7 linked regions of the Homo sapiens genome follow. The protein of the gene in region 2 purifies or fractionates together with the protein of the main gene of each other region. This does not show direct contact. Each region holds a gene or a part of one and is shown on either strand. Other genes may lie near its edges.

Region 1 (4,371 bases), on a different chromosome or scaffold from region 2:
GCTACAGACATTAAGACACACTTTGGCCCTAAATACTTCAGCAAGAATCAACTAATATGGTTAAGAACAGTATCCTACATAATCTACAATACTGCCCTTCTTTACTAATCAACACAGTTCTACAAGCCACTCATTACCAGGCCTAGTTTTTCAGGGCAATTACTTATTATAGTAGGTCTCTAGCCTTTTAGATACAATACCAGCTTTTAATAGTAAACACTTTTGTAATGGACAGGGAACAACTCTTCATTGTGTAAAACTGTCCCTAACACTGCATACTGCCTAACACCCCTGGCCACAGCCCACTAAATGCCCATCAGTGACAACCACTAATGTGATAACGACACAAATTTCCCAAATGCCCCTGGGGATGTAATGCCCCCATTACGAACCACCGGATTCCTAGATGGGATATCCATCAAGACAACACACCTCTCCCGAGGCCGTCGTTCTAGTTTTGGCTCATCCAGCTGACGCTGCAACTTCTCTTGTTCCTTCTGTAGCCGTTCTTCTACTTCTCTTTCTCTAGCAGCTGTGTCAACAGGCTTTGCCCCTCCAAAGATAGAAGCAGCTCGAGTGGACTGGGAGGTACTAGCAGAGGAATCATCTTCCTTAGGAGTACTCCGAGGCTTTAGATTCAGTTTGGGTCTTTGGGGGGGACCTAAGTTAAATGAAACTTTAAGTAATAGTTTTCCAATCACCAGAAGCTGATGGCTGAAAGCCAGATTTCTCAGATATAACTCCTATGAAATGCTACATGAGATTCAAGTTAGTGGCCTAACCAATCCACAGAAGGCAAATAGATCATTAGAAAACAGGTAGTTTAGGCTGGGCATGGTGGCTCACGCCTGTAATCCCAGCACTTTGGGAGGCCGAGGCGGGTGGATCACAAGGCCAAGAGATCGAGACTATCCTGGACAACATGGTGAAACCCCGTCTCTACTAAAAATACAAAAATTAGCTGGGCGTTGGGGCGCGCACCTGTAGTCCCAGCTACTCAGGAGGCTGAGGCAAGAGAATTGCTTGAACCTGGGAGGCAGAGGTTGCAGTGAGCCAAGATCGAGCTACTGCACTTCAGCCTGGTGACAGAGCAAGGCTCCGTCTCAAAAATAAAAAAAAGAAAAAAAAAAAAGAAAATAGGTAGCTCAGGCTGGGCGTGGTGGCTCACGTCTGTAATCCCGATACTTTGGGAGGCCGAGGCGGGTGGATCACCTGGGGTCGGGAGTTCGAGACCAACACAACCAACATGGAGAAACCCCGTCTCTAGTAAAAATAAAAAATTAGCCAGGCATGGTGGTGCATGCCTATAATCCCAGCTACTCGGGAGGCTGAGGCAGGAGAATCGCTTGAACCTGGGAGGCAGAGGTTGTGGTGAGCCAGGATCGCACCACTGCACTCCAGCCCTCCAGGCTGGAAAACAAAAGCAAAACTACGCCTAAAATAAATAAATAAAAATAAATAAAAATAAAAATAGGTGGCATAAATAACCAAGTTCTGGCCGGGCGCAATGGCTCACGCCTGTAATCCCAGCACTTTGGGGGGCTGAGGCGGGCGGATCACCTGAGATCAGGAGTTCGAGACCAGCCTGACCAATATGGAGAAACCCCATCTCTACTAAAAATACAAAATTAGCCAGGAGTGGTGGCACATGCCTGTAGTCCCAGCTACTCAGGAGACTGAGGCAGGAGAATCGCTTGAACCCACCGGGGAGGCGGAGGTTGCAGTGAGCTGAGAACACACCACTGCACTCCAAACTGGGCAACAAGTGCCAAACTCCATCTCAAAAAAAAAAAAAAACAAAAAAACCCAAGTTCAATTACTCTTCTACCACATCCATGATGTAGTACAAGACCACAGGAAAGACTAAAAATGGTAAACATTTAAGTAATAAATTAATAATCTATCAAGACTTCTTTTATATGGGAAGAAATTTTTGACCATCATTAAACTACTGGATGAAAGTATCTTGCTCCGAAATCTGCATGTTAAGAACTAATACAATATGATAGGGAAGATTCTAGTTCTTTATTTTTTTTGAGACAGTCTCGCTCTGTCACCCAGGCTGGAGGGCAGTGGTGTGATCTCAACTCACTGCAACCTCTGCCTCCCTGATTTTCCTGCCTCAGCTTCCTCAGTAGCTGGGAGTATAGGCACGTGGCACCATGCCCAACTAATTTTTGTATTTTTAGTAGAGATGGGGCTTCACCATGTTGGCCAGGCTGGTCTTGAACTCCCGACCTCAAGTGATCCGCTTGCCTTGGCTTCCCAAAGTGCTGTTACAGATGTGAGCCACCACGCCCAGCCAGGAAGACTCTAGATCTTATACCCTTGTCTCTGTGTATAATATAAATTTGGCAGGTGGTTCATGGGGCAAAGCATGTAACACTGAACAAATAAACTCTTAAGGCAGGCAGTCTGATTTCTTCCTCAATTCAAGTTGTCAGAACACTTTCAAGAGAAACCTAAGTGTTTCAAGGAAGTTAAATTTCTAAAAATGATTGTTTGTCCTAAATATTTTGGATATACAAAAGATACAGAGAATATAAAGAAAGCCTATGTATACAATCACCTGGCTTAAGTAATGTAACCTTAACAAAGAGGTAAAACCTCCTGATGACATGACCAGCTGTACTCTGTCCTCTAAATAACCACTAGATGGTGACTTCATCATGCCCACACTTGATTTTATACTTTTACTACATATGCACATAGTACCTGTAGATAGAGGGTACTGTTTAACAAGATCTAAATTTTCTACGAGGGCTTTAAGCCGACAGTTTATATATGTTCCTAAACATATTTTAAATCTGTGTTATAGCCCCGTCACTTTTGTAAGATAAAATAGGGGCTCAGAAAAAGTAGCTCATTTAAGATATTAATAAAAGAACGCAGCCGGGCACAGTGGCTCACGCCTGTAATCCCAGCACTTTGGTAGGCCGAGGGCAAGTGGATCACTTGAACTTGGAAGTTTAAAACCAGCCTGGGCAATGTGGAGAAACCCCATCTTTAGAAAAAATATCAAAATTAGCCAGGCATATGGCACGCACCTCTAGTCCCAGCTACTGGGGAGGATGAGGAAGGAGGATCACTTGAGCTCAGAAGGCTGAGGCTACAGTTAACCATGATTATGTCACAGCAATTCTAGCCTGGGCGACAGAGTGAGATCCTGTCTCAAGAAGAAAAAAGTAAAGGCTGGGCAAACAGTGAAGGCCCGTGTATGTCAGAGGTATAGAGAAAGGGCTATGTTCCAGGCCATGGGGAAACTAGACAGGTCTAAACAGGAGAATAAGGTAATTAGATCTTATGCCAGAAAGACAACTGACAACTGGGGCCAATGTGAAGAACGGAGCAAGAAAGGGAACTCTGTTAGGAGGCAATGGCCAGTAACGTGGGTGCAGCAATGAGGCCTCAACGAAGGTAGCAGCAGCAACTAGAGACAAGAGGGCAAATCTTAGAGGGAATGGGGGGGTAAGAGCAAGAAGAGAAATAAAAAATTAGGTATGCAGCTCTTGGTGGGGAGGTAAGGGACAGTGTGAGAGAGGAAAAGGTCAGAAGTCAAGGAGAACATGAGGCCCACATCTGAGCCTCCACTTTTCTAACTTGTAATTTTACCTATACCACACAGAAGTCTTAGAATTAAACAATACTTGTACAAGCCCTCAGCTCACTGATGGAACAGAGTAAATGGTTAATAAATGTTAGCTATTATTTTTAGGCTTCTTGCTTGAGGAAATCGCTTTTAAGAACGTAGTTTTTTCACTGGGCGCAGTGGCCCACGCCTGTAATCCCAGCACTTTGGGAGGCCGAGGCGGGCGAATCACAAGGTCAAGAGATCCAGACCATCCTGGCCAACATGGTGCAACCCCGTCTCTACTAAAAATACAAAAATTAGCCGGGCGTGGTGGCAAGCCCAGCTACTTGGGAAGCTGAGGCAGGAGAATCACTTGAACCTGGGAGGCAGAGGTTGCAGTGAGCCGAGATCGCGCCATTGCACTCTAGCCTGGGCAACTAGAGAGAGACTCCGTCTCAAAAAAAAAAAAAAAAAAAAAAAAAGAATATAATTTTTTAAAACCTATTTCCTATTTTATTATTTTTTAGATGGGGTCTCACTATGTTGCCCAAGCTGAAATGAGACCTTGGCTAACTGCAGCCTTGACCTCCCAGGCTCAAGCGACCCTCCTACCTCAGTCTCCTAAGACACGGGGACTACAGGCACATGCTACCACGCTCAGCTAACTTTTATATTTTTTGCAGAGATGGGGTCTCACTATGTTGCCCAAGCTGAAATGAGACCTTGGCTAACTGCAGCCTTGACCTCCCAGGCTCAAGCGACCCTCCTACCTCAGTCTCCTAAGACACGGGGACTACAGG
Region 2 (3,391 bases):
GGAGAATGGTGTGAACCCGGGAGGTGGAGCTTGCAGTGAGCCGAGATCGCGCCGCTGCACTCCAACCTGGGCAACAGAGCCAGACGCTGTCTCAAAAAATAAATAAATAAATAAATAAATAAATAAATAAATAAATAATATATATATATATATTTCATATATAATTAATTTTCTAGGAAAGTCATCTTATATGCATGGGCGTCTTCCTTTTGTGTTAATACAGTACATTATCTATTAGAACATCGACTCTTCCTCACTGATATCCTTACTCCTCCCATATGTTCTGTTAGACCAGGTGGCACATAAGTCTTTGAAAACTGAAGTGACTTCAGGAAGACCCAGCAGGGCAGGAGATAAGAAGTGAACAAGAACCAGGGCTGGGGCTGGGGTGAGGACTCCCACTGATGTGGTCAGTGGTGCCAAAGATAGAAGATAGGATGGCTTCACCCCAGGAGCAAACCATGGGTCACAAAATCCTGTGGTATCTGAGAGGGATGAGAGGTATGCCAGCTTCCCAAGGCCATAAGGCTGAAAAGTGGCAGAAGAGGGACAGGAGAAAAGTTTTTGGCAGTCTCCAGAAGTTGGTACAAGGACCAGGCTGGAGCTGGGGCCACAGACAAGGGAAGAGAGCACCTCACCCAGTCATGAGCCCCATCTGCCAGTCCAGGGCAGCAGGGAGGCATTTCTTGGTCTTTGACCTGCCATGGGCTTATGAGACAGAAATGAAAGCACAGCCAGCATCCTCTGCCACAAAAGACCTTTAATGGCCTCCTATTTATTGTTCTTTTGTTCATTTGTTAGAGTTGAATGAACTATAATAACTTGTCTGACATAATAAGAATGCCACAGGTATAACAGATAAACCTGGCAGGTGGTCCAGGAATGAGAGTGTCACAAAATAATCACTCAACACAAGGGCCACAGACCTGGAGATTCTTCCCAGCCATCCCTCACTCCTGCCCCAGGACACAACCCATGCAGGCCCCCATTCCATAGGAAGAGGCAGGTCCCACAGTGTCTGTGGCTAGACCTTAACACTGAGCAGAGATGCCCGGGAAGATGGCACTTCCTATGCTCGTTCCCAAGTGCTCTGCTCATCTGCCATGCAGGTCAGGACCATACCCCGAGTTTGTGAGGCACCCACCTCTCATACTCACCACCTCATATGACCACCTATCATACCCACCTCTCCTATGACCCTTGCAATTGTCCCAGTGAGGTGGGAAGAGCCTGGACTAGCCCCATTTTGCACACAGGGAAACTAAGGACACACTCGGACCGAATGTAATACACCCGTGTCATGCGCTTGCTGTGCCCTGAGCTTCACATTTTCACCTAGAATTCCCTGGGGGGTGGGAGTGGGGGACAGGGCAGGCAGGGTTTTGTGCCAAGGGCTGGTCCAGTTCTCACTAAAGTGTCCAGGATTCCTGGGGGAATCCTGCCCTCAAAGGAGGGACTTTTGTCATAAAATCCTCCCTGAGTCTGTCTTTTATGTGAGCCAAGATTTCCATCCATCCGGCGCTGTGTAAAGATGAATTTAACCCTAGCCTCTCTCCTATCACACTGCTTCTCCTGCTGTGTCCCTTGGGCCTAGGCCAGGAAAGTGGGGTGCCAGATAGGGGTGCAGACACAAGTCCTCAGTGGGGGATTGAGCCTGTTTCCTTGCTCCAGAGCTCCCCATGCTTCATGGGCCAATATCAGGGTCACGACCCATCCCCACTGAGCACCAGGTCCCTGTCCAAATCAAACCTTGGCCAGAGCTTCAGGGTGGGTTGGCTAGAAAAACCATCAACTATGTACGTGTGTGTGTGTGTGTGTGTGTGTGTGTGTGTGTGTGTGTATAAATGCTTGTGCCTGGGTCTGTGACCCAAGTTCCAACACAAAGACACTTTGTACTGGAACGCTGGAGCCATTCCAACATGAACAGCAAGAATAGAACCTGTGCTGGCTGGTCTAAGATCAAACCTCGAGATGGTGGTTTGAAGTTCTTCTTCAAAGAAAGCTTGAAAATGAAATCTCAGTAGGCAAGACAGATAAAAGCAGAGTTATTCTGGTGGCGGCGGAAATGGGAGGAGGGCTGGAAACCTATCCTTTGCCTCCACTCCCATCTTCCCACTTTAGCATCCCCTGACAAAGCTCTGTGGAATATCAGGGGTTCCGCAGCACCTGGTTTGAAAACCACTGTGTCAGTGTCTACAAACCATAGGCCCCACGGACCTGTGCTTTGACTTCCCTTTTGGGGTGACGAGTTGGAGTGTGATGGGGGGAGGATGTTTCCCCTTCAACAGGGCGTGTCTTTGAAGCCGCTGTGCAGTGACCCTGTGGGGAAGTGGTAGAGGTGGGGTCCTGCCACTTTCGTCCAGGAGGAATGGCAGAAGAGATGGAGCTGCCTGGGCCAGGAGGAAACACCAAGCCCAGTGCAGGCCGTATAGATGAGGGTTCAGGAGTGTTTTGGTCCTTTTGAGTTTAAAAAATTATAGATATCAGAACAGGCATAGGCCTATGTCCATGAGACCCTATAAGAGTGTAAGACTGGGACCTAACCCCTTCCTCCTGGATGGGTGGAGAGCAACCAGTCCCCAGTGACAGGCAGGAGAGAAGCTGCCGCTCTGGGATGCTGACGCCACTGCATCCGCTGTGGCTCGGCTCTCAGGACAAAAGGCTTGGGTTTTTCCTGGGCCCGAAGCCCTCCCAATGTCACTGAGAAGCTGTGGTGGCTCCAGTTGCTCCTGGAAGAGGCCTTACACTTTGAAGGGAAGGAACAGACAATTTCTATTTCTCCTTGCCCTTAGATTTCTGCGGATGGGTGGTTTCAGCTCCCTGAGCCTGGGGGCTGGTGGCTCTCTTTAACCTGGGTCAGAGCCAAGGCCCCTTGGCCTCTGTGGGGTCTGAGAGATGGGAGATGTGACACCAGGCCTAGGAGGGTCCAAGATGTCCCCCTCCACCAATCACTGACAATATCCAGGTCTTCCCTCTGTGTCCTGGTTGCTGGGACCACTATTTTTGGGCATGATATTCCTGAATTGTATCTAAATTTCCCTCTCAGCTGGGTCATCAAAGCCAAATTGGCTGTATCTCATTCTGGTTGACATCTGCCTAAGTGAGAAGCAGGGCAAGCGATGAAGACTGGTGGGGAGGGCTCCTCCTGCAGCAAACTTTCTGTGTGACCTTGGGCCATCCCTGCAGTGGCAGGGCCACACACATCCAGCCATTTTCAACTTACAGAGCCCTGACCGCTGACTTTCATCTCATCTGGGCCTCATAACAATTCCTGCGTCAGGCAGGGAAGGGATTACAATCCCATTTTACAGTTAGGGAAATTGAGCCCCAGAGGTTGAGTAGCTTGCCCAAGCCCCCCAGGTGGTTGGTGACAGGCAGGACTGAGAGGCGG
Region 3 (4,709 bases), on a different chromosome or scaffold from region 2:
ACCAACAGGACTACTGGTAATTTTTTTATGGACTATTTTTCTCACTTTTTACTGCAAATAAAACTGTGAAATGATAAATACCTTTCTTTTCTAGTAAATAAGTTCCTGTCTCTTGCCAACAAGAGGTTACCAGTGAAAAGAGCTGCTGTCCAGTTTTTGAATAATGCTTGGGGTAAGATCCAGCTTTATTCTCCTGTCTCTAATAGCTTTATATGTTGAATAATGTTCTTTTGAAGGAGATAGTTCATAATTATACTTTTCCCCCTTATAATGGCTTATATATTAAGTTACTTGTGAAAAACAGGTCAATGTAGTATGTATATACATCTAAAGTATAATAAGCCCACCCAGTTTTAGTAATTACATTCATATAGAGTAATTAAAAAAATTTTGAATTATGTTTTTCTAATATACTTACTGCAGAAAACTTTATATTCTAGGAATCCAAAAAAAACAAAATGCCAAGAGGTTTAAAAGACGGTGGATGGTCAGAAAGATGAAAACTAAGAAGTAAATCAATGCTAAATGAAGAATCTGTACTTTGTATGTATAGAATTTATCTAATAAATCATTCATAGATCATTTTAAAGGATCATTATAAAAATCATAAACCTATTTGAGGAAGTGCTCAACCACATTTCATTCTTCTGGAGTAGAACTGTGCCTTGCAATCCTAGAGGAAAAAGTGGTTTAAGAAGGAATTGTTTTCTTTTTAATATATTTAACTGAATTCAAGCCATACCCACATCAGCAACAGCACCTCTTCTACTCTCCCCGGGTTAGAGGGGTGGCAAAAATGGCACGGACTAAAAGGAGAAATGGATATTCCAGCAAAGTCTCTAACTGCAGCCTGTAGACAATTTGCTATTAAAGATTCAGTGCACAAAATATAGCTAACAGCTTTTAAATTTTTACTTTTAACCAGTCTGGGGATTTGCTTGCCTGGTGAGTCTCATATGCCATATTATGAATATGAAAATAATGAAGTTAATTTCCTGTTGCCTTTCTGTGTCAGCCACAATATCAGGTCTAACCCTAATCCAGGGATGCCAGTAAACTGAAGGCAATTTTAGGTTGTAGAACTCAGATTAATTGTAGAAACCATTAATTTTAATTGCTCTAATTTTCATAGTAATCATAAAAAGTATGCAAGTACCTAATATATAAACTCAATTGACACTGTATCTGTAGAAGTAAATTTTTAATGGCTGGTTAATTATATCACTACATTTTATTGCAATATAGTACTCATTTAAGCACTTAAAAATGGAAGGTGTACAAAGATTAAATTAAGACACGGTAAATTGACTAAATATTTGGTTTTTATATAAATAAAGGTCATAACCACACCGTTGACATGTAATACTGTTATAATACAACAGTTAAACTTGTGAGTCTACAACAGAAGTCATCTGTAGTTAAACAGGAAACAAAGTTGAAAAAGACCATGTTAAAACAAAACTACTGGGACTAACAGGTCGGGATTGTAAGTAGCAACAAACATATTCACTCAGCTCCTGAGTATTTCAAGTTTTACAGTACACATTAAAAATGATTTCTTCCATCAACACTATAAATTCAAACTGTCGGATGTTTATGCATTTTGCAAGTTACACTGATTGAATGCTTATATGGGAGTGGGGGTCGGAACATCTCCCAATTTGAAGTTTACATCACCCACATGCTAACACAAACACAACTTGTTCCATTTCCTTCCCCTCTCTCCCCCCTCCCCCACAAAGAAGGCAGGATTTTTGGTTTCTTTTAGGTAATTGTTTTAAAGGATTTGTGATGATCAATTTGAACGTCTGAAATTCAGTAATATTTAACTCTTAGACAACTAAGAGGTTAAAGATGGAAAATAATTTCTCCTAACACTAAGTTAGAAAATCATTTGCATCATGCTGTAAACTAGGAAGCAATGTAAAGCGACAAAAACCTGTCCCCAGTACATAATTTAAAAAATCTAAATTTCAAATCAGCAGAGCTGGTCTACTTCCATGTTGACTATATGCCACAATATAAGTGTGAGCTCTTGAAATGCATAGCTAATGTAGGTAGTCTTCCACTGTGGCAAATGCGCAGGATCCAATTCCTGATCGAGCCATCAGTCCTAGACATTGTGTGGCCTGTCCCATTGCTAGGGCAAGTGGAGGTTGCTTTGGCAGATTGTGGGTTTCTGAGGAAAAATAATTTAAAAATGAGAACAGCAATTAGCAAGACATTTTAAAAAACATTTCAATCAGGAGAATACTGCAATGACTTTAAAAACTACCACTCCCATACCACTCTGAAATATCAGCAAATGAAGGTTTCTAAGCAAAAGACAGATGCCGCCTTGGACATACTATTCTGACAAGGTAGTGTGGGTATTGTGTATTCAACTATAAGATAAACTCTGGCAGAATCAGACTTTTAAAGTATCAGATACTAAAATACTTCCATATTAACTATGATGGGAAAGGTACAATTTTTTATCTGATATTTGGAGTGGAGAGTAAGGAATTATTTCCCTTCTGGTTGATCAAAGTCAGTTGATACTAACTAAAACTAAAAAAGGCACCAGGTTTTCATTACAAGTTTCCACTGATGGGTTCTTCCACCTCTGTGGATAGGACCAAACAGGCTGCCTAGCCATCTCCAAGGCATATATAGGTAATGTTATTTGGGCTGGTGGGGAGTAAGTGGTGGTGGTGACAGTGAGAGAACATACAGCAGAGCCACCCCACAGTTTTGGAGGTGCTAATTTACAGTGGACAGTTCAGACATTTAAAAAAATGCCAATAAATTTTCAGGGTCCTGCATATCATAAGTTTCTTTGTCAGACATTTGTAGTACAAATGCAATAATTAACAAAATTTGTTCCTTGCCAGAGATGGAAAAAAATGAACTAATGGTAAAAGTGGCCAGACTCAGAAGCTGGTAATTTCTCTTTATGAGAAGGCAATGTCCAAACTAATCAATAAAATTACTAATCAGTTCTTTATAGGCACAGTTGACAACAAAGGGCAAAAACAGTTGACACATGGCTAGGAAGGCTTCATATGGTTTAACTCCACTCTTGGTTCAGAGGATGCAATTTGATGGTGGAAGAAAGAAGAGGAAATTTCCAAAAGGGAAAAAGCACAATATCAGAAAGAAGCAAATTCAGGACTTAAAGGTAGAAGAGAAAACAAAAACAGGATTAAGAATAAACGTGTGCAAAAAAGGGCACATAGATTGATGAGAAAGTGTGGTGTCTTGAGGGTTCACAGGGAAGACCGTGCTCAAAGACAAACATCTACAGGGAATATTTTTTTAATTTTATTTTGGCCAAAGGAAGCATCTGGCGATGCATCTTTAACTTTTTTGGATGTATGAAATTTTCATAACACTATATAGATGGACCTACATAATATAGCATGGTATTTATAAACATATACATGCCCATCTATAGCAGTTTAATAATTGTGTCATTAATTTTACAGGAATCGCATACATTTATATTAATAAGATTAAGCACTATTTATGGCTGAATCTACATAATATAGCACAATATGTAAGAGTATATGTGTCTATAGATAATGGTGCTCAACAATTAAATTCCCTTGAAGAACTCAAGAAACTAAATTGTAAGAAAACTGGTCACTTTAAAGATTAGTATCATCTAATAATTAGGTCTTAATGATTACCTACAATATAACTTCAAAAAGACATTTATAGTAAACCATAATTTTCCTTACAATTCCAGCATTATTACTAAGTTACTTTTACCAACGGAGCTAAATGAATTTTGTAGAACCAATGAAAATATAACACATTAACCAAAGAAAATTCACATTTATATACAAATCCTAAATTCCGGAGAACTACAACACTGAGGACACTACTCCTATTCCCAAACTTCAGTATTGGTCCTTAACAAATTAATAAATTTTCTAAGGGCAAAGAAACAGACTGAGTCTTAAATATGAATGCTTTTCATTGCTTCCTTTACATTCTTGCTGTAAGAGTCCTGGCCCTCATTGCAAGTCTCCCTATCTAAACTACTCTTTAATCTACTTTTTGTGGCACTGCCCTCATCTTCCTAAACTAGTTTGAAATATGTGACTAAAAGTCCCTGAACCTTGCAGGGCCAAACAGCACAGCACAGACTTCTAAACTAGACTGGAGTCCCAATTACCTGGGAATTAGACTCTGAAGTCAAATGAAAACTCACTCTTTATATAAATTACCTTTGATGAGAACTGCCCAAAACTCAAACTTGTTTTATGTAAACAATCGACCCTATCACATTTATATAGAAATGCACAATATGTGCAGTTACACAATTCATATAAAAAGTACTTGTTCAGTATATAAATACTATAATCACAAACGCTACAGTGAGCTGCTCATAGGAATGGCAACCAAACGAACATCGAATTAGCGTTTCGCACTTGATGCTCACCCCTGGCTAAGCCTCGCCTTTTAAATTGCTTTTCTCTTCCTCACCCACCCTTTTTATTGGGTAAGGGCATGTAGTTGAATCCGGCTAATATAAATGCAAATAGAATGTGACATCAAGGCTTGATCCTGCCGGGTACTCACAAGTCATCAGGAAGCCCCTTGTGCCCATATTCATAAGCATGGTGGGAGCTGTGATACCAGTGGCTTAGGCTGCTGCTACCCATTGCAAATTTAGCTCAAGCAAAATGGTTGGGAACCAGGTAACAGGGGAGGACCAGCTA
Region 4 (4,371 bases), on a different chromosome or scaffold from region 2:
ATCCTTGGCAGCCACCCAATGCGCCTGGAGGAACCTCAGGTCCAGCATTATGTAATGATACCTGCTGCTTCATCTGGGTGCCCCCCCAACCACAGCTCCTCCTTTGAGACATTCCCATCCTATTGAAATGCCACCTTCTTCTCAAAGCCTTCCTAGGCTTCAATATACACTGCAGCCACCCACCACAGGGGACTTTCCTGTTTTGCTCATTCCTGCCACCAACTGAAGAGTTACAGAAATAGCTCTGTTGTCTAAGGCAGCGCCACACTGCTCACCTCATATTTATTAGGTGCGATGAAGTTTAAGGTCTCATCAGGGTCATACAGGATGGAGAAGGCCAATTCCAACACCTCCTGAAGGAGAAAGGGTTTAAATTAGAGCGATGGAACAGCCTGGGGTCTGCACATCAAGATCTTGGCCAAAGTCCTAGTGACTCGGCATCATCACCAAACATGCTGATTCAGATGAATGTCATCAATGCTCCTAGGCGGCCACAAGTGTGGCTGGAGATGAGGCCCAGCATAAATCAACCTTAACTTACCCACTCCCTGCCCAAGTCACATCAAAGATGTTGTGATATTTTTAAGATTGGAAAAAAGTCATTTTCAACACTCAGAACCCTGGAAGGTCACGATCCATGACTGTAAGTTATCCTAAAAGTTTTTATATTACCAAGATGACTAACAACTTCTATCGTGCTGTATTTGGCATAGGAATGTCTTAACAATTAAAAAACAAAACAAAACACACACACACACAAAATTGGTCACTGTTGCATGATACCAAGGAACTAACTCATTATTTTGAAAGTAAGTACATAAAAGAAGAATCAGCATTTATTCTCGTTTCCTATATAAACTGTACCACTGGGAAACCAATAGTAGATAAGGGCAAGTTTCATGGTTCAGCTCATAAATGAAAAGCAATGACTGCATCAAAATATCATGAGTTTGCAAACCTTAGTTGACTGATGGAATGAGGCACTGAGCTTCAACAGTCTGCTAATTATCACAAAAGGAGAGACCACCAGACGTTATGTGCCTCTTGATAGAACATAATACCACTGATGACACTGGCCAGGAAAAAAGTTAAACCTGAACTGGATCAAACCTCTAGATCCCTCTTCCAATGTACAGATCTGGGACAGAGGAACAAGTTAAACTGTACCACGGGGAAACAATCAGCAAAATTCAGATGCTAGGAAACTACCAAACAAGCAATCTGGTTCTTCAGCTAATAAACTGCAAAGGAAAAGATGGTGGGGGATGGGGGGGCGGGGGAACTTATGAATTAAGAAACTTAAAAGACCAGTCTTAGACTCTGGTTTAGACAAGATGGGTATGGGGGTGTGTGTGTGTGTGTGTGTGTGTGTGTGTGTGTGTGTGTGTGTATCCATATAAACATTTATATATCTGTAGAGAAATTATGACATTTATAAGACAATTGGTAGAAAGTCACCATCAGTGGAATATTTGATCTGAAATAACTACTTTCATTTCCTGTTATGTGTGCTAATGGACTGGTGGCAATGTTATACACTATACGATGTACACTAAATATTTACAGATGAAACAGTGTGATACTTGGGACTTTCTTCAAAGCGATAAAGGAGAGAAACAAGTGGATGGGCAGAACTGGCCATGGTTGCTGAGTCTGGGTGATGTGTATACAGAGGTTCCATCTATTTTTGTGTATGTTCAAAATTCTTAATAAAACATTCAGGAATAGAGAGGGGAAGATGCCAAGAATGCACCTGGAAAAAACCACCACCAATGGCACTCTCCAAGTATCACTGGGCCAGCTACTCAAACTGGCCTCTCTACTCACCTTGTTCTGTTTCAGAGCACTTTTCTCTTTCATGTGGGGACAATCTTTCCCAGTGACAATGGCCTTAATGTCTGCAACAGGAACTGATAAATGATGGGAATTAGTCTCTGGAAGTTCATGCTGCAAGCTGGTCAGTGCCTACATCAGTGCTGGAAGGGAGGTACTGGGGCAGATGCATAGGAAGCCTCAGCCCCAAACTCCAAGGGCTGCTGTATGAGCTCAGTGAGGGTGGTGGGGAGGATGGCCTTGTACTGTTCCCTCCGTCTTGGTCACTCCTGTAGACCACAGCCCAGTGAGGCTGTGTCAAAGCTAACTGAGGGTCACTTCAGGGCTCTTGGATTTATATCCCCAAGGAACGGGACCTTGGTGACTCCCTTCCCCTCTCCTTCACAATAATGGCGATGATGATGCCATCATCGCCAACAGCAGTGGCAGCTGCTAACAGTTATGCTGACTACCTGCCAACCACTCTTCTAAGTGCTTTGCATACATTACTCATGCAATCCTCTTAGGAGGAAAGTGTGGCTATTATTCCCACTTTACAGGAGAAGAAACCAAGGCAGAGGGGAGAACTTGCAATTAATTAGAATTCAAGTTAATTAGGAGCAAAGCCAGGATTTGAATGTGGGCAGTCTGGCTTCACAGCTTCTCCTCTTAACTACTGCCTTTCGACTTAGTCATGTACCACCCTTTACAGTCTACACAATACATTCACACCTGTGAACTCATTGTTTCTCCAAACCACCCCACCGAGTAGGCCAGGTAGAGGAAATCGCTGACAGATAAGGAAACAGGTCCAGAGAGGTAACAGGTACAAGCCCAGATGATCAGCTACAAACAGCTGGACTAGAACTCCTGTCTCCTGACAAGTCCAGCAACCATGACACATCAACAGAGAAATGAACCTACTTTTCTCCTGCAGGGATTCAAATGTCACCTCCCCTTGTGGGTTGTCATCCAAGTCACCATAGTGAAGGACCTTGTGGTTCAGTGCCAACCGGCAGTACCAGAACCGTTCTGGAACACAAGGGAAGCCAAACAGGTGAGCAACGACAGTACTGGGAAAGGCCTGGGCACAAAAGGGGCCATCCAGGCAGGCTCTTCCCGGCACCAAGGATTGCCCCGTCTCCTCTCACCTTGCCTTCGGCGGTTCCCAATCTTTCGGAAGCTGCTGCCCTCACAGAGCCGGTTCAGGCGCTGCTGCTTGATCAGCTCAAGGATCTCGGGCTGGATCTTCTCCCTCAGCTCCCTGGGGTGGACACACACTGGAGTGAGCGGAAGGTCATGGGGACAGTGGAGCTCTGGAAGGAAAGCAGAGCTGGCAGCCACCTCCCCCGCCAGCCTCCCCTGAGATGGAACTTACACAATTGGCGGGGACTGGAAGTCATCCTGACTCATCCTCTCAGACTGGCGCAGTCGTAGAATCTCAGAGTAACTCAGGCTACGCAATTTGCTCTTGAACTGATCCAAAGAGTTGGGTTTGGAGGGCAAAGCTCGAGTGATTTGCTCTCGGACGACTTGCATAACCTAAGAGGAGAAGAACCCAGCCAACTCACACCACTACTCTTGAGAAATGGACAGGCCTATTATGGAGCACCAAGGCTCTTTCCTGCCCCAGGGTCTTGAGCAGGGCAGGCACTACAGACATCTGCTGGGTGAGTAAGGTATACCTTCTTAGATGGTTATTCAGGTCACATGACTGACACTGATAGATGCTTTATTTCCCATATATTTCAATTGGTCAATGGTGTGGGGGAAATGAGCATGGATTTTTGTAGTCAGAAAGAAATGGGTTCACATCTTGACTCTGTCCCTTCAGCAAGTCACTTAACATCCTTAGGTGTGCATCTACTCATCTCTAAACCGAGAGAAAGGAAGACACATCTCCTGATAGGTGTTGCCATAAAGAATATGAGATACCAGCCGGTTGCAGTAGCTCATGCTTTGGGAGGCTGAGGCAGGCGGATCACCTGAGGTCAGGAGTTTGAGACCAGCCTGGCCAACATGGTGAAACCCCGTCTCTACTAAAAATACAAAAATTAGCCAGGTGTGGTGGCTCACGCCTGTAGTCCCAGCTACTCAGGAGGCTGAAGTAGAAGGATCACTTCAACCTCGGAGGTGGAGGTTGCAGTGAGCCGAGACAGTGCCACTGCACTCCAGCCTGGGTGACAAGAGTGAAACTCTGTCTCAAAAAAACAAACAAAAGAATAGAAAGGCAAGCGCAGTTCTGGCACGCTGTGGTGTTTTAAAAAAATGCATTGGTCCCCTTAAAACAACTATTAAAGAAAACAACAGGATACCACACTGCATGCGCAGTATGATCTTGCTAATGAAGGAAAAACCTGTAGGGGATAAAAAAGACTAGAGGAAAACAAAAATGTTTGTCACTGGATGGTGTAAATACAGGTAACTTTTTATTCTTTATACTTTCCAAATTTTTTATGATGAGATGATCAACTTCAAAACACTCGACCCCTAGATGATCAGCTTTTGAGGGCCTGGCACAACAGTGCTCTGCATAGAGTGAGGACTGAAAGCACCGAG
Region 5 (4,371 bases), on a different chromosome or scaffold from region 2:
GAATCATCAGGAATTGCGATAAAGATACAAGAGCAAGGATCTTTGCCTTCACGGAGCTTCCAATCCACTTAGAAACACAAGGTAAAATCATCCGCATTCCCCAGTCCTGTGATCCCCAGGAAGCTCCTACAATGGCCTTCAGATTATTTTGTCTCTTTCTGTGTATGAAAACCCAATAGAAAAGCCAAAGCCAGGAAGGATAAAGTCAGAAGGGCATGTCAGTACGAGGACATCAGCTACAATACAAGAACTATGCAAAGTGCTTAGTCTTTCCTGTCGGCAAATAAGACATAAGGAGCATCTCACACAGCACATTATTTGGCACATAGTAGGTGCTCATATTTGTTCATTTGACTAGCATTCTGCATGAAACTGTTCCTTCTTAAGTTATGCCTGGTTAAAAAAAAAAATTAGAGGAAATATTTTTTAATAACTGACAAGTATATGTTGAAAAAATGGATTTGAGATATCTTCATAATTTGATTTTTAAGTAATACTAATTTTGTTCTTTAAAATTAACCATAAAGGCTTTTAACAAAATATTCTGCACTGATTATGGCTATGTATAAAGGTTAACAACAGAGCTGTATAGTTAATCCAATTTGGGATTCTCGGCACTGCAACATGGACATTTATTTTTGTTTTTAAAGCCCAAATTCATGACCACCTAGGATGTGTTAACTCATTTCATCAGTATGCCTAGGTCCTTTTACTACATGTTAGATGAGAAATCAGACAGATTTTTACATATCGGTAATGTAACAAATCAAAGGTGATTGTTGAACAACTTCCTATAATTTTATTTTTTACATATCGGTAATGTAACAAATCAAAGGTGATTGTTGAACAACTTCCTATAATTTTATCAGTAACAGCTATTCACACAAAATAGTGTTTGGGTCTGAGAGCAGCTCTTTCTTTAATGTTACTCCATTCGGCAGAACAAGAGTAAACGTTCACGGTTTACTGTAGTCAGTTATTGCCACAGATTTAATTACCAACAATCGCACATTTTACCTTCTATTGCTATTTCACACTTCACTAGGATTAAGTCTGCAGAGATCTTAACATAACTTAAAAGGCATTACAAAAGTTTTCCTTTGAAAAATGTGACTGCCTCCCGTTCCAACCAGGAAATTTGACTTTAAAATTTGTTGCTTCACAAACTTGTATTTTCCTCAACCCAATACAGAGGAAACAGATTCCCTCCACCTTCTGAGGGAGAAAGCAATCCTAACCTCCTTATAAAATGGCTTCTGTCTCTTCCAAGATGTACCCTTTGAGCTCCCTATTTTCCCTCTACAACATCCAATCAACATTTCTACTAATATTAACAGAATATTAGTAGAATAACTCCCCTTAAAGAAAAATTAATATGAATGCTGGAATCAAAACCTTCCTTAGAGAATCTTGTTAATTTCTTTTCAAGTGTAAGTGTGCCTGGATCATAAAGAAAAATCTGTTCCTTTTTTCTGCTAAGTTTAGCATAGCACGCAGCCTCACAACTGCAAAGGCTGTTTCAGGTCCTAAAAAATTCATGGGTAATAAAAATCGTAACTGTTTTTAATAGGCACTTCTGAAAACTGAACATAAGCCATTTCTCCTAAAGTAGAGCTGAGATGGTTTTCTTTTTTAATGAAAAAGATTCTATCAAATTTATTTATATTAAAATGGCTACTAAATTAGTCTTCTGGTTCTCCTTTCTAAACTTACTTTAGAATATGTGAATAGATAAACCTGCAATATTTTCACTGTTCAGCAGGGTTTTAATTTGTGTCAGATTTGCCATATGAAGAAATAGCATATAGGGGTAAGGATGGGACATTATATGGAGATCCAGACGATGAATCTACGTAGTTCAATGCAAAAAACTTATTCCGAAGGCTTTGTTATACAGTCAGAGCCACAGTTTTGATTTTTATGAGGGATGTTCCCACTTTGTTCTTCTGATATAAACTATAAGTACTTTGTTTCAACAACAACAAAAAAGGGAACTGTATCCAAATAAATCCTGACATTCAGAAACATATTCAACACTTGGAAGCTAAAAGAGTAGCAAAAAATAAAACCTGTTGGTCCTTAAAGCAGTCTCATAAACACCATATTTTGCTATTTTTAGGGAGCTGCTGTTATTGAGGTTACTTAGACCAAGGCTTTCACTCAATGGTTCTGAGTCACCATCCTAGATGGCACTGACCTCTAGGTTAATTCAGGCAATCAACATACCCACTCCAGTGAACCCTACTGAGGAGCAGTGGGAAGCGTGCTCTTTTCCAGATGTGTAGAAATTAACTTCCCATACAGCTTAAATTGGCTACAGCACTTCCAGCCTTCCAAGCCCCTTCTTGGTCTAAAACTGTATAGCTTTCAGTACAAATGCATATCCTTCATATTAAAAATGTTCTAACTGCAATTCCTGAAATTCTGTATTTAATTATGGTGGTTTTCCTCACGTTATTGTATAAGTCAATCACAAACACCCATTTAGTCATCACCTGTGCTCTACAGAGTATTAAAAATTCACTGAGCCCTGTACCATGGAGAAAAATGTATGGTAAAAAGATGAGAGGGTTAAACTAGCCTCTACACAATAAAAAGTAATAAAAATATAGAATGGTTTTTCTTTTCTTTAAACTTTCATACTTTAAGCATGACTGTTACCATTCTCAAATACATCCAGTACAGAACTGTAATACACTGGTTCAATGTGTGATGCAACATCTTACATTAACACTTCCTATCCTGGAATGCATTTATAATCAGTTGGCTCAAAGAGTTACACACAATTTTTTTAAGATCCTGATTTTATCTGCCACAGATAAAAACATTATATATTCCTATGTTTCTATACATTTATTCATTATTGTCTGGTCTAATTTCCAGCAGGAGGGTAATAAATAAATTCATTTACTCAGCCAATATTTATTGAGAGCATTCTACGAGTTAGATACTGTGCTTGAAGCTGGGATTTAATAGTGAGCAAAACAGACACAACCTCTACTCTCATATGTTTGCAGTGTACAACAGGAAGAAAATCTGTGCTCATATATAAAATTCATTTCAGAAGACCAAGACCATTTAAGGTCTTCCATTTAAGACTGGCCTGTCGCGACCAGCCTGACTAACATGTTGAAACCCCAGCTCTACTAAATGCAAAAAAAATAGCCGGGCGTGGTGGTGCATGCCTGTAATCCAAGCTACCTGGGAGGCTGAGACAGGAGAATCGCTTGTACCTGGGAGGCGGAGGTTGCAGTGAAGTGAGGTCGCGCCATTGCACTCCAGCTTGGGCAACAAGAGCAAAACTCCATCTCAAAAAAAAAAAAAAAAAGACTGGCCTAAACTTTGCCTGTTTCAATAGCGATAATTCAATCAATTAAAGGGGTTTACTAAGTCTTCCTATTTGATAATTAAGATCTAAAGAGTAAAAGACTTCAAAAACGTGTAAAATAAGAACAGGTTAACAGGAAAAAAATGTTTCTTCTAGGAACTGAAAAAAATTTCAGGATAACTATATGTAACATGAAGCAGGCACTCAAGGCCACTTGTATTACACAGACTTACAAATTATATTAAATGAGGTTATCTATGTACCACCAACAGAAATATTTAGTGAATATTCATGAAAATTAATCAATTAAAGAAAATATGTGCTTTATACCTACAAAATATATAAAAACATTAACCAAGTTAAAATGAAGTATGCTCTTGTATATCTACATAGAATACAAAGAGTAAGTTTTGAGTGTCAAACACTAACATAAATGAATTCAAAGAATGAATAAGTTAAAAGACAACAAGAAAATAATTCAAAATTTAATGTAATATTCTTATAGTGGTAGATTTCAGGGTTCACGTTTCTAAAGTTAAAATAAAAATATATAATATATAAGCATACGGAATAAATTTGGAAGACTGGCATAGTTGCCGAATATAAATCAACATAGCCCAAATTTTACTGCCATACTTTCATCTAGTCAGGTACCCACTAATTGTCTTTTTAAATGTCTCCATATTATTAATACACAAAAGTAAATAATTACATGAGCAAATGCAAGGGTACCCACTTTTATCCCTGTCAAACAAATCCTCTTCCATTAAAATGGTATCAAGCCTTGAACTAAAATTTACTTTGAAAACAATTTTACATTGATTTTCATTTCAAAATACTTATTCCTCCATAAACTAGTTAAAAATATTAGTAGATCTTTAAACTGTGAATGGATACATCTTATAATCTCCTCTAGATAGGTTTGTTTAAATGATAGAAGGAACCAGAACATTCAGTGTACTCATCAAAGCAGCGAATCAGGAATTCCTCAAATGAAATCCCTCCCTAATATCTTCCTTGTTGAAATCAACCGTCCTGGATTC
Region 6 (4,371 bases), on a different chromosome or scaffold from region 2:
TCATATTAGGTATCTGAATTATGTTTCTGCAGTTGCTGACAAGGCAGCCTATCTCCAAAATCTGAACTCTGCAGATCTGCTCAAAGCCCTCTGCTACCCTAGGGTCAAGGTCGGCAATGAGTATGTCACCAAAGGTCAAACTGTGCAGCAGGTAAGTGCATGACCTCAATGAATCACACACATCCCAGGCCTTCATGACATGTCTTTAATAACACCAACAAACTTTATCTGTGAAGGTGTACAATGCAGTGGGTGCTCTGGCCAAAGCTGTCTACGATAAGATGTTCTTGTGGATGGTCACCCGCATCAACCAGCAGCTGGACACCAAGCAGCCCAGGCAGTACTTCATTGGGGTCTTGGACATTGCTGGCTTTGAGATCTTTGATGTGAGTTAGCAGAAAAATTGTACCAAAAAAGTTTCCAACAAGCAAGCTTGTTGCTGCAGTCATATAGCATGCCTGTAGTCACTTATGGAAAGGGTCTATGAAAAATAGCTGCACTTTAAACTTAACTGACACATGAAAGAGCACCAAAAGACCGTGAAAGGAAGTGAACTTTGGAATGAGACAGACCTGGATTCAAACTCCTGCTCTGCCAATTACTAGCTGTGTAATAATGAGAATTGTACCTGATTGATCATTGGGCAAATTCAACTAGGACCTGTAGGTAAAGCACTTAACATTCCAGATCACAGATTCACTTCTGAGATCTGTCTGCTAGTTTCAAGATTTCTGAATTTTCAGCCCTTAACACAGTCCCCAAGCATGCAGGCAGCACTCAGTAAACAGTAAGATACTGAGGGCAACAATAGAATCAAAGATAGCAGTGGAGAAGACAAAGTCTTTAAAAGAAAGACTTTGAGATTCTGTTTGCCGAGAAATGAAATGTGTTTAATTATTAGGATAACCTCTGCAATACCCAGGTATTGAGTATAGAAATGGCATCGTAAATAAACTCAAATTTGTCTGCCTAAGGAAGAATACCTGCTACACAGCTTAGGAAATAGGGCTACTGCAGTCCTCCACTTGACAGCAGTATCTCGGATGTGTCTCATTTAGAGGTCCCAATTCTAAACTTTTATCTGTGTACGGACTGATTGAAACTGGATGAAATTTTAGAAACGGAAGCACTTCCAGACATTTCCAAGCCAACGTGGAAAGAAAGGAATAATCTGTCATCAAGCAGGAACAGAAAAAGCAATCCACACTTTTTAAAATAAGAGAACTAATGACAGGGTACTTGCAATCATTTTGAGCTGCTTCTTTTTTTTTTTTTGAAGTAACAGCTTTATCGAGATATAATTAACATATCATACAATTCACCTATTTAAAGTATAAAATTCAATGGTTTTTAGTATATTCACAGGTACATGCTATCATCATAACAATTTCAGAACATTTTCATCATCCCAACAGGAAATTCTATTTTGTCCTCCCCCTAGGCCACAGAAACCCCTAATCTACTTTCTGTCTCTGGTTTTGGCTGTTCTGGACATGTCTTATAATGGAATCGGATAATATGTGGTCTTTGTGACTGGCTTCTGGCACTTCGCATATGCTTGCCAGATTCATCCCCCTCATAGAATTCCTTTGACTTTTGTGTATGGTGATAATGCCCTTAAACAAGGGCATCCTCAATTGTGTTTCTATGTAGGTGTCCCGAATAATAAAGCAGGGCAGGTCTACTCAAGTTCTAGGAGTAGTTACAAACACTGGCTCTGGCATCAAAATGTTGGGGTTCCTGCCATGACCCTTACTACCATGGTCTTACACAAGTTACTTAGCCTCCCTAATAGTGTTTCCTCACCCATGAAATGAGCAAATGATACCACCTACAAAGGTAGCTGTGAGGATTAAATGCAGTAACTTATACAAGGCACTCAGCATAGTGTCTACTGTAGAGTAAATGTTCACCAAATATTAGCTGTTGAATTTTTATTATTAAGGACAACATACAGACCATAATGGCTCAGATCTAGCAAATTTAGCTAGTTTACAACATAATCATAATCATTAAGAAACCTCTGACTAACAAAAACAAATACTATAAAAACCAAACAACTTTTAAAAAAAAAACTTTTAAGTTCAGGGGTCCATGTGAAGGTTTGCGACATAGGTAAGCTGTGTCGCCCACGTATGAAGCCTAGTACCCATAAGTTATTTTTTCTGATCCCCTCCCTCCTCCCACTCTCCACCCTCCAATAGGCCCCAGTGTGTGCTGTTTCCCTCTATGTGTCCATGTGTTCTCATCATTTAGCTCCCACTTATATGTGAGAACATACAGTATTTGGTTTTCTGTTCCTGCGTTAGTTTGCTAAGAATAATGGCCTCCAGCTCCAAACAACTTTTTTTTATTGCATAGGAAAGCATCATTCAGAGCTTGTTGACAGGTGTTGAAGAGACAATTTTAACAAGTATGCTAACAGCAGCAAAAACTTCATTGTGTAGGTATAGGTAGGACAAAACGATACCATCCTAAGAGGGCAATTTGGCTAACTAAAAAAACACCCCTTTCAAAGAGAAGATTTCATTATAAATTGAATGCTAATTTGTATTTTCAACTCATTTAGTTCAACAGCCTGGAGCAGCTGTGCATCAACTTCACCAATGAGAAACTGCAACAGTTTTTCAACCACCACATGTTCGTGCTGGAGCAGGAGGAGTACAAGAAGGAAGGCATTGAGTGGACGTTCATTGACTTTGGGATGGACCTGGCTGCCTGCATCGAGCTCATCGAGAAGGTTGGCTTGCTTTTTGCAGACCACAGATCATACTGCTGTACAGTATTTAAAAGAAAATCATAAAATCTTGATATAGGCAATGGCTAAATATTTCTACTTGTGAAAAACATGAGGAGAATTCCTTATTTTGCCAACTCTGAAGTAGATATTCTGGTAAAAGGAGATTAAATATTTTCTATAGAGTCCAGAACACAACACTTACCCACAGTTTGCAATACAAAGTCTTACATTTAAAGTCATCTTTCCTTACAAAAAGTGCACTGACTAGAATATTTTTTACTTACTGTTTTTTGTCATCCTAAAGTCATTATTACTGCATTCAAAGTATGAATTTCTACTACTGTACGTTAAAGCAGAGGCTTTTAAAATCCAGTGTGCGAAAGACCCACCAAGAATACTTGGTACAATTGCAGGTTTCCCTTGTCTCACCCCTAGAAATATTTTCTGGTAAGTGTAGGATGAAACATCGGAATCCTCATTTTGAGCAAGTGATTCTGATGCAGCTAATTCGCAAGTCACACTTGGAGAAATATTGCTCTCAGGTCTTTGGGGTAAAGACACAAACTCCACAGGAGCACAGCCTTCATCTGTCTTACTCTGTCATATCCCAGAGCCTGATACAGCACGTGGCTCCTGATCAGCACCCAATAAATATTTGTGAAGTTAATGACTTCTGACCAAAGGAACGAGTTTTCGTTAACTCTGTAGAATTAAAGGATGAATTTACTCAGATGGGATAATTATTAATGTTAAATGTTATTTCTATAAGCAGACAGAATTCAAGTGGCATTTATTTCTTTTCATTCTTCCAGCCTATGGGCATCTTCTCCATCCTGGAAGAGGAGTGCATGTTCCCCAAGGCGACAGACACCTCCTTCAAGAACAAGCTGTATGAACAACATCTTGGAAAATCCAATAACTTCCAGAAGCCCAAGCCTGCCAAAGGCAAGCCTGAGGCCCACTTCTCTTTGATTCACTATGCTGGCACCGTGGACTACAACATTGCCGGCTGGCTTGACAAGAACAAGGACCCCCTGAATGAGACTGTGGTGGGGCTGTACCAGAAGTCTGCAATGAAGACTCTGGCTCTCCTCTTTGTTGGGGCAACGGGAGCGGAAGCAGGTAATTATCAATATAATTAATCTTTTACCTAATGTATAAAACATAACTAGAGGCCAGACACGGTGCCTGTAATCCCAGCATTTTGGGAGGCCAAGGTGGGTAGATTGCCTGAGGTCAGGAGTTCAAGACCAGCCCGGTCAACATAGCAAAACCCCGTCTCTACTAAAAATGCAAAAATTAGCCGGGCATGGTGGCAGGTGCCTATAATCCCAGCTACTCGGGAGGCTGAGGCAGGAGAATCGCTTGAACCCAGGAGGTGGAGGTTGCAGTGAGCCGAGATCACGCCACTGCACTCCAGCCTGGGCAACCAAGAGTGAAACTTCGTCAAAAAAAACAAAAAAAAACAAAAAAAAAAAACCATAACCAGAGAAAGGCTGTCCTATGATTGCTTTCTTTTTCCCCTCAGAGGCTGGCGGTGGAAAGAAAGGTGGTAAGAAGAAGGGTTCTTCTTTCCAGACTGTGTCTGCTCTCTTCAGGGTACAAACTTCATTTTCTCTGTCTAATTAGAT
Region 7 (4,371 bases), on a different chromosome or scaffold from region 2:
TCCATGATCCCACTCGGTGAGAGGACCCCCTCCCCAGTTACAGGCAGAGGAGAAAGGGACTCTGGAGTCATCACCTGGATTCCAAGTATTGGGTGGTGTTATTGCTGCAGCTTGCCACTGGTGGACATAGGGTCCTGCCTGCCTCTCACGATAAAAGGCAAGGATCATTCCTGCTACTCACAGGCCATCTCATCAGGGACTGCAAGATGATGTCCCTTCAGGGCCAGGACTGATGTCTCTGCCCCTTTCCCCCCTCTATCCCTCGCTGAGCCTGGCCACCGCCAGTGAACTGTCTTGACATCATGGAAACTGGGCAGCGTCCCCCCACACGTTTCCCTCCCGCCCCCCCTGCGCCCCTGGGAGGACTCTGGCAGTGCCGTGCTGACTACCACGCCGTGCGCCCACCTTTTTTGCCAACCCAACCCCCCACCAATTGCACAGCGCCTAGCAGGGAGGGCTCATTCTGATTGGACCGGCGGTTGACTAGATACAGTACACAGTGAGGTGCGATTGGCTGAACTGAAGATCCCAGGTGTGAGATGGTACCTGGAACATTTGTCATATTCCTAGTTTATTTTCTTCTTTATTTTCTTCTTCTTTTTTTAATATTTTATTTTATTTTTTTCTATATCTTTATTTTTTCTGATTTCTTTTATTTATTTATTTGGTTCATGTTTTTCCTGTTTTAATTAAGACCTTTTTTTTTGTTTTGTTTTTCTCACTAACTTACCCATCGAGAGCGGCCCAGCTAGGGGTCAGGCTGGCCCTTAACAGAGACCAAGGAGACTTGGTTAGACGACACAAACGGGGCTGCGGGTGGGGGTGGATGGGAAAGGGATTTCATCACGAGGTTTCTGCCCTACCCTTTAGAAGAGTGGTAGAGTGGTCTTAGTTTTTCCAGAAATAAGCACCTACACTTGAAAATACTCTATTCCCTTTTTCTCTCTCACTTTTCTCCCCCGCCCCCCATAGTCTTTCGTCATTCACCCACTGAGTGTTTGGGGTAGAGACTTGTCCCAAAGATGTCTTCTGGTCTTTGGCAGAGCCCCTAAGGCTTGAGCCCTGGTTGGAGAGGAAACAGTAAGACTCTGCTGGAGCTCCCTGCGGTGGCTGGAAAGTCTAAGGATCTCCTTGGGGACAATCTGCCCTTCATAAAAACCTTCCTTTATCAAAGACACCTTTGAGTTCTTTTTGCTAGCACTTGGCTCAAGAGCCTCATCTCCAGTGGGTCTGGTGCTGCCCTTTTCCACAGTGTGGTGGGGGTCTGGGCAGTCTTGACATGACAGTCTGCTGTCCAAGCATCTCAAAGCCATTGTCAGTGGGCATCAGTCTGGCCATTGAAGAAAGGAGGGTTACCTTGTTGAAGTTGCCATCCAAAGTTGGTTTTCCTTGTTTCCTCGAGTTAGCAAGGAAGGACCTGGGAGGACTAGATGACCCAGTTTGGGGCACAGTTTGTTTGGCTTGGTGTCCTCTCGACTCAGACGGTGAAAGAGGGGGTATGACCAACATCTTTAGGGGGCTGAGAGGCTACTGAACTCCTCTTCCAGCTTATTTCTGGTTAAGCTAATACACAGGTGTGATACGGAGTAGATGACTTTTCCCTGCTCTGATGTTTAGTTTTATTTTTTTCTCTAACTTGCATTGATTCTGCTTCGTTTTTGCCGTTTGCCGCTTCTGTTTTGGTCTCTGTCTGTCTCTGTGTCTCTCTCTGTCTCTCTCTCTCACTCTATCTGTGTCTTTGGAGGCTAAGCTAAGACTGCCCCATCTAACCTCCTTCCCCCCTCTCTGTGGGGTGTCTCTCTTTCTCTTTTTTTTCCCCTTTTTCTTCTTCATACAGAGCTCGCTGCCCAAATCATTCAAGAGGAAGATCTCCGTTGTCTGTAAGTCCAGCCCCAAATCCCTGATAAAAGTCAGGAATACCATAAAAACCAGCATTCATTGAGAACCAGAATTTCATTCTCAATGGCATTCTTGGGTCACTCCCTCCTGCCCCACCCCTTGTGCCTAGCAAATCTGAATCCTTTCCTATGTAGGGTTTCATTTTGGAATTCAAAACTTGAGACAATCCCCATCATATTGCTCCAGTCACATTTTAATGAGATACAGTGTGAGGTGTCTGAGACCATGTCCCATTTAGCCTTAGAGGCATTTATTCTTTCAGATACCTGAATACTCAACAAGGAATGAGTTTCAGGGACTCCTATGTGATGCTTAGCAGTTTATGAATTATTCTGGGTATTTTGTTGTTGTTTTTTTGAGACGGAGTCTCCCTCTGTAGTACCCTAGGCTGGAGTGCAGTGGTGCGATTTTGGCTCACTGCAACCTCCGCCTCCGGGTCCCAGTTCAAGCAATCCTCCTCCGCCTCCTGAGTAGCTGGGATTAGAGGCATGCGCCACCATGCCCAGCTAATTTTTGTATTTTTAGTAGAGATGGGGTTTCCCCATGTTGGACAGGCTGGTCTTGAACTCCTGACCTTGTGATCCGCCTGCCTTGGCCTCCCAAAGTGTTGGGATTACAGGCGTGAGCCATCGTGCCTGACCTTGTTTATGCGTTATTCTAAGAGAGCACCCAAGGAAATGAAAGTGCCCCACACCTCAAACAGTAACAATTTTAACATTTTCCCCAATGAGGAACTCTAGATTACAAAAGTATAATAGATGTTTATAACTTAAATATCAATCTGTAGTGTGAAAATTAAAGGAAGACCAGATCCCATCATGATCTTAGTTCTGCCTAGATGTTAGTATCACATAGTGTTCTTGTTTCTTCTGCATTTACATGTCCTTCTCAGTTTTTCTTCCACACTACTTGATATTACTGTCTACCATTAAAAGTTTAAACGGCTCATCAAACTAGCTACCCCTCCCTTACTGCTTTTAGATCAGTGTTCAGTCTGAAGCCATGGTTTCCCCAGTTCCCAAATATGATTTCTTTTCTTTTTTTTTTTTTGAGACGGAGTCTTGCTCTGTCACCAGGCTGGAGTGCAGTCAGTGGCACCATCTTGGCTCACTGCAGCCTCCGCCTCCCGGGTTCAAGCAATTCTGCTTCAGCACCCTGAGTAGCTGGGATTACAGGCATGCACCACAACGCCTGGCTAATTTTTGTATTTTTAGTAGAGATGGGGTTTCACCATGTTGGTCAGGCTAGTCTCAAACTCCTGACCTCGTGATCCACCCGCCTTGGCCTCCCAAAGTGCTGGGATTACAGGTGTGAGCCACCACACTCAGCCTCCAAATATGATTTCTTTAAGTTAACCTTTTACCAAAACTCCAGCCAGAGGTAACCTGTAGGTATTACGGTTTGAACTAGCAGAGGTCCTGAGACCATCTAACTGTTGGGTCTATTTCTTGGGGACAGCAGCTACCAAGGGGGTGCCAGCTGGAAACAGTGACACAGAGGGGGGCCAGCCTGGTCGGAAACGACGCTGGGGAGCCAGCACAGCCACCACACAGAAGAAACCTTCCATCAGTATCACCACTGAATCACTAAAGGTGAGGTGGGAGGAGCCAGGGAAGGGAGGATGAGACCTGTTAAGGTGGGAGTAGACATGGGCCCAGTGTAACGGGGTGGGGGGTATCTGTGTCCCAGAGCCTCATCCCCGACATCAAACCCCTGGCGGGGCAGGAGGCTGTTGTGGATCTTCATGCTGATGACTCTCGCATCTCTGAGGATGAGACAGAGCGTAATGGCGATGATGGGACCCATGACAAGGGGCTGAAAATATGCCGGACAGTCACTCAGGTAAGGCTTCTGCACCCCAGTGTCAGGGGAAAGGTGGGAGCAGTAGATGCAGAGCAGCTAGCTGAGGAGCTGAGATAAAGTCTTTGGAGGGAACTTCCCTGTCTGTGCAGAGGGTTGGGTTGACTGACACTTTCAGGGGTCAGACTACCAAATCCAGCTGGCTACCTGTTACAAATAAAGTTTGATTGGAACACAACCACACGAGTTCATTCACTTTTGTCTGTGGCTGTTTGTTCACTACAACATCACCAGAGTTGAGTAGTTGCAACAAACTATGTGGCCTGCAAAACCTGAAGTACTGCTTTGCTCTACAGAAAAAATTTACTAACTCCTGTCTTAGTTTTCCTCAAGGCAAAGTTGAGGCACTAACAATCCCAGGATCTGGTAGAAGTGAGCCGATAACGAAATACCCCTAGCGGAAGGAACATGCTAGATTGACTGCTACTCTTACCGGGGAACCAGAGGCTGAAAAGAATATGCCAGTTTGGTGTTTAACAGACCTGCTGTGTTCTCTGACACCTTGATAGGTAGTACCTGCAGAGGGCCAGGAGAATGGGCAGAGGGAAGAAGAGGAAGAAGAGAAGGAACCTGAAGCAGAACCTCCTGTACCTCCCCAGGTGTCAGTAGAGG

The links.
Region 1: the proteins of ARRB1 (region 2) and EIF4B purify together in Homo sapiens (affinity purification with mass spectrometry; one large-scale study listed by BioGRID and IntAct). This does not show direct contact.
Region 3: the proteins of ARRB1 (region 2) and RANBP9 purify together in Homo sapiens (affinity purification with mass spectrometry; one large-scale study listed by BioGRID and IntAct). This does not show direct contact.
Region 4: the proteins of ARRB1 (region 2) and ELMO2 purify together in Homo sapiens (affinity purification with mass spectrometry; 2 studies listed by BioGRID and IntAct, with this or other methods). This does not show direct contact.
Region 5: the proteins of ARRB1 (region 2) and GNAQ purify together in Homo sapiens (co-immunoprecipitation; one study listed by IntAct). This does not show direct contact.
Region 6: the proteins of ARRB1 (region 2) and MYH1 purify together in Homo sapiens (affinity purification with mass spectrometry; one large-scale study listed by BioGRID and IntAct). This does not show direct contact.
Region 7: the proteins of ARRB1 (region 2) and ACIN1 purify together in Homo sapiens (affinity purification with mass spectrometry; one large-scale study listed by BioGRID and IntAct). This does not show direct contact.

What each region holds. Positions count from the first base shown.
Region 1 is NC_000012.12:53,030,096-53,034,466, reverse strand, and holds part of EIF4B (eukaryotic translation initiation factor 4B), read right to left. Parts: intron 662-4,371; coding exon 433-661; intron 1-432. UniProt on the Homo sapiens protein: Required for the binding of mRNA to ribosomes. Functions in close association with EIF4-F and EIF4-A. Binds near the 5'-terminal cap of mRNA in presence of EIF-4F and ATP.
Region 2 is NC_000011.10:75,259,382-75,262,772, forward strand, and holds the end of ARRB1 (beta-arrestin-1), read right to left. Parts: 3' UTR 741-3,391; downstream 1-740. UniProt on the Homo sapiens protein: Functions in regulating agonist-mediated G-protein coupled receptor (GPCR) signaling by mediating both receptor desensitization and resensitization processes.
Region 3 is NC_000006.12:13,620,314-13,625,022, forward strand, and holds the end of RANBP9 (ran-binding protein 9), read right to left. Parts: intron 2,180-4,709; coding exon 2,049-2,179; 3' UTR 1,185-2,048; downstream 1-1,184. Other genes in the region: U3 small nucleolar RNA-associated protein NOL7, read left to right, coding at 1-16, 95-172, 441-514. UniProt on the Homo sapiens protein: May act as scaffolding protein, and as adapter protein to couple membrane receptors to intracellular signaling pathways. Acts as a mediator of cell spreading and actin cytoskeleton rearrangement.
Region 4 is NC_000020.11:46,368,616-46,372,986, forward strand, and holds part of ELMO2 (engulfment and cell motility protein 2), read right to left. Parts: intron 3,355-4,371; coding exon 3,191-3,354; intron 3,077-3,190; coding exon 2,964-3,076; intron 2,845-2,963; coding exon 2,737-2,844; intron 1,911-2,736; coding exon 1,828-1,910; intron 354-1,827; coding exon 276-353; intron 1-275. UniProt on the Homo sapiens protein: Involved in cytoskeletal rearrangements required for phagocytosis of apoptotic cells and cell motility. Acts in association with DOCK1 and CRK. Was initially proposed to be required in complex with DOCK1 to activate Rac Rho small GTPases.
Region 5 is NC_000009.12:78,024,441-78,028,811, forward strand, and holds part of GNAQ (guanine nucleotide-binding protein G(q) subunit alpha), read right to left. Parts: intron 1-4,371.
Region 6 is NC_000017.11:10,507,854-10,512,224, reverse strand, and holds part of MYH1 (myosin-1), read left to right. Parts: intron 1-32; coding exon 33-151; intron 152-236; coding exon 237-386; intron 387-2,569; coding exon 2,570-2,740; intron 2,741-3,552; coding exon 3,553-3,862; intron 3,863-4,268; coding exon 4,269-4,339; intron 4,340-4,371. UniProt on the Homo sapiens protein: Required for normal hearing. It plays a role in cochlear amplification of auditory stimuli, likely through the positive regulation of prestin (SLC26A5) activity and outer hair cell (OHC) electromotility.
Region 7 is NC_000014.9:23,063,475-23,067,845, reverse strand, and holds part of ACIN1 (apoptotic chromatin condensation inducer in the nucleus), read left to right. Parts: exon of another isoform or gene 1-486; intron 487-1,837; coding exon 1,838-1,880; intron 1,881-3,357; coding exon 3,358-3,491; intron 3,492-3,588; coding exon 3,589-3,741; intron 3,742-4,268; coding exon 4,269-4,371.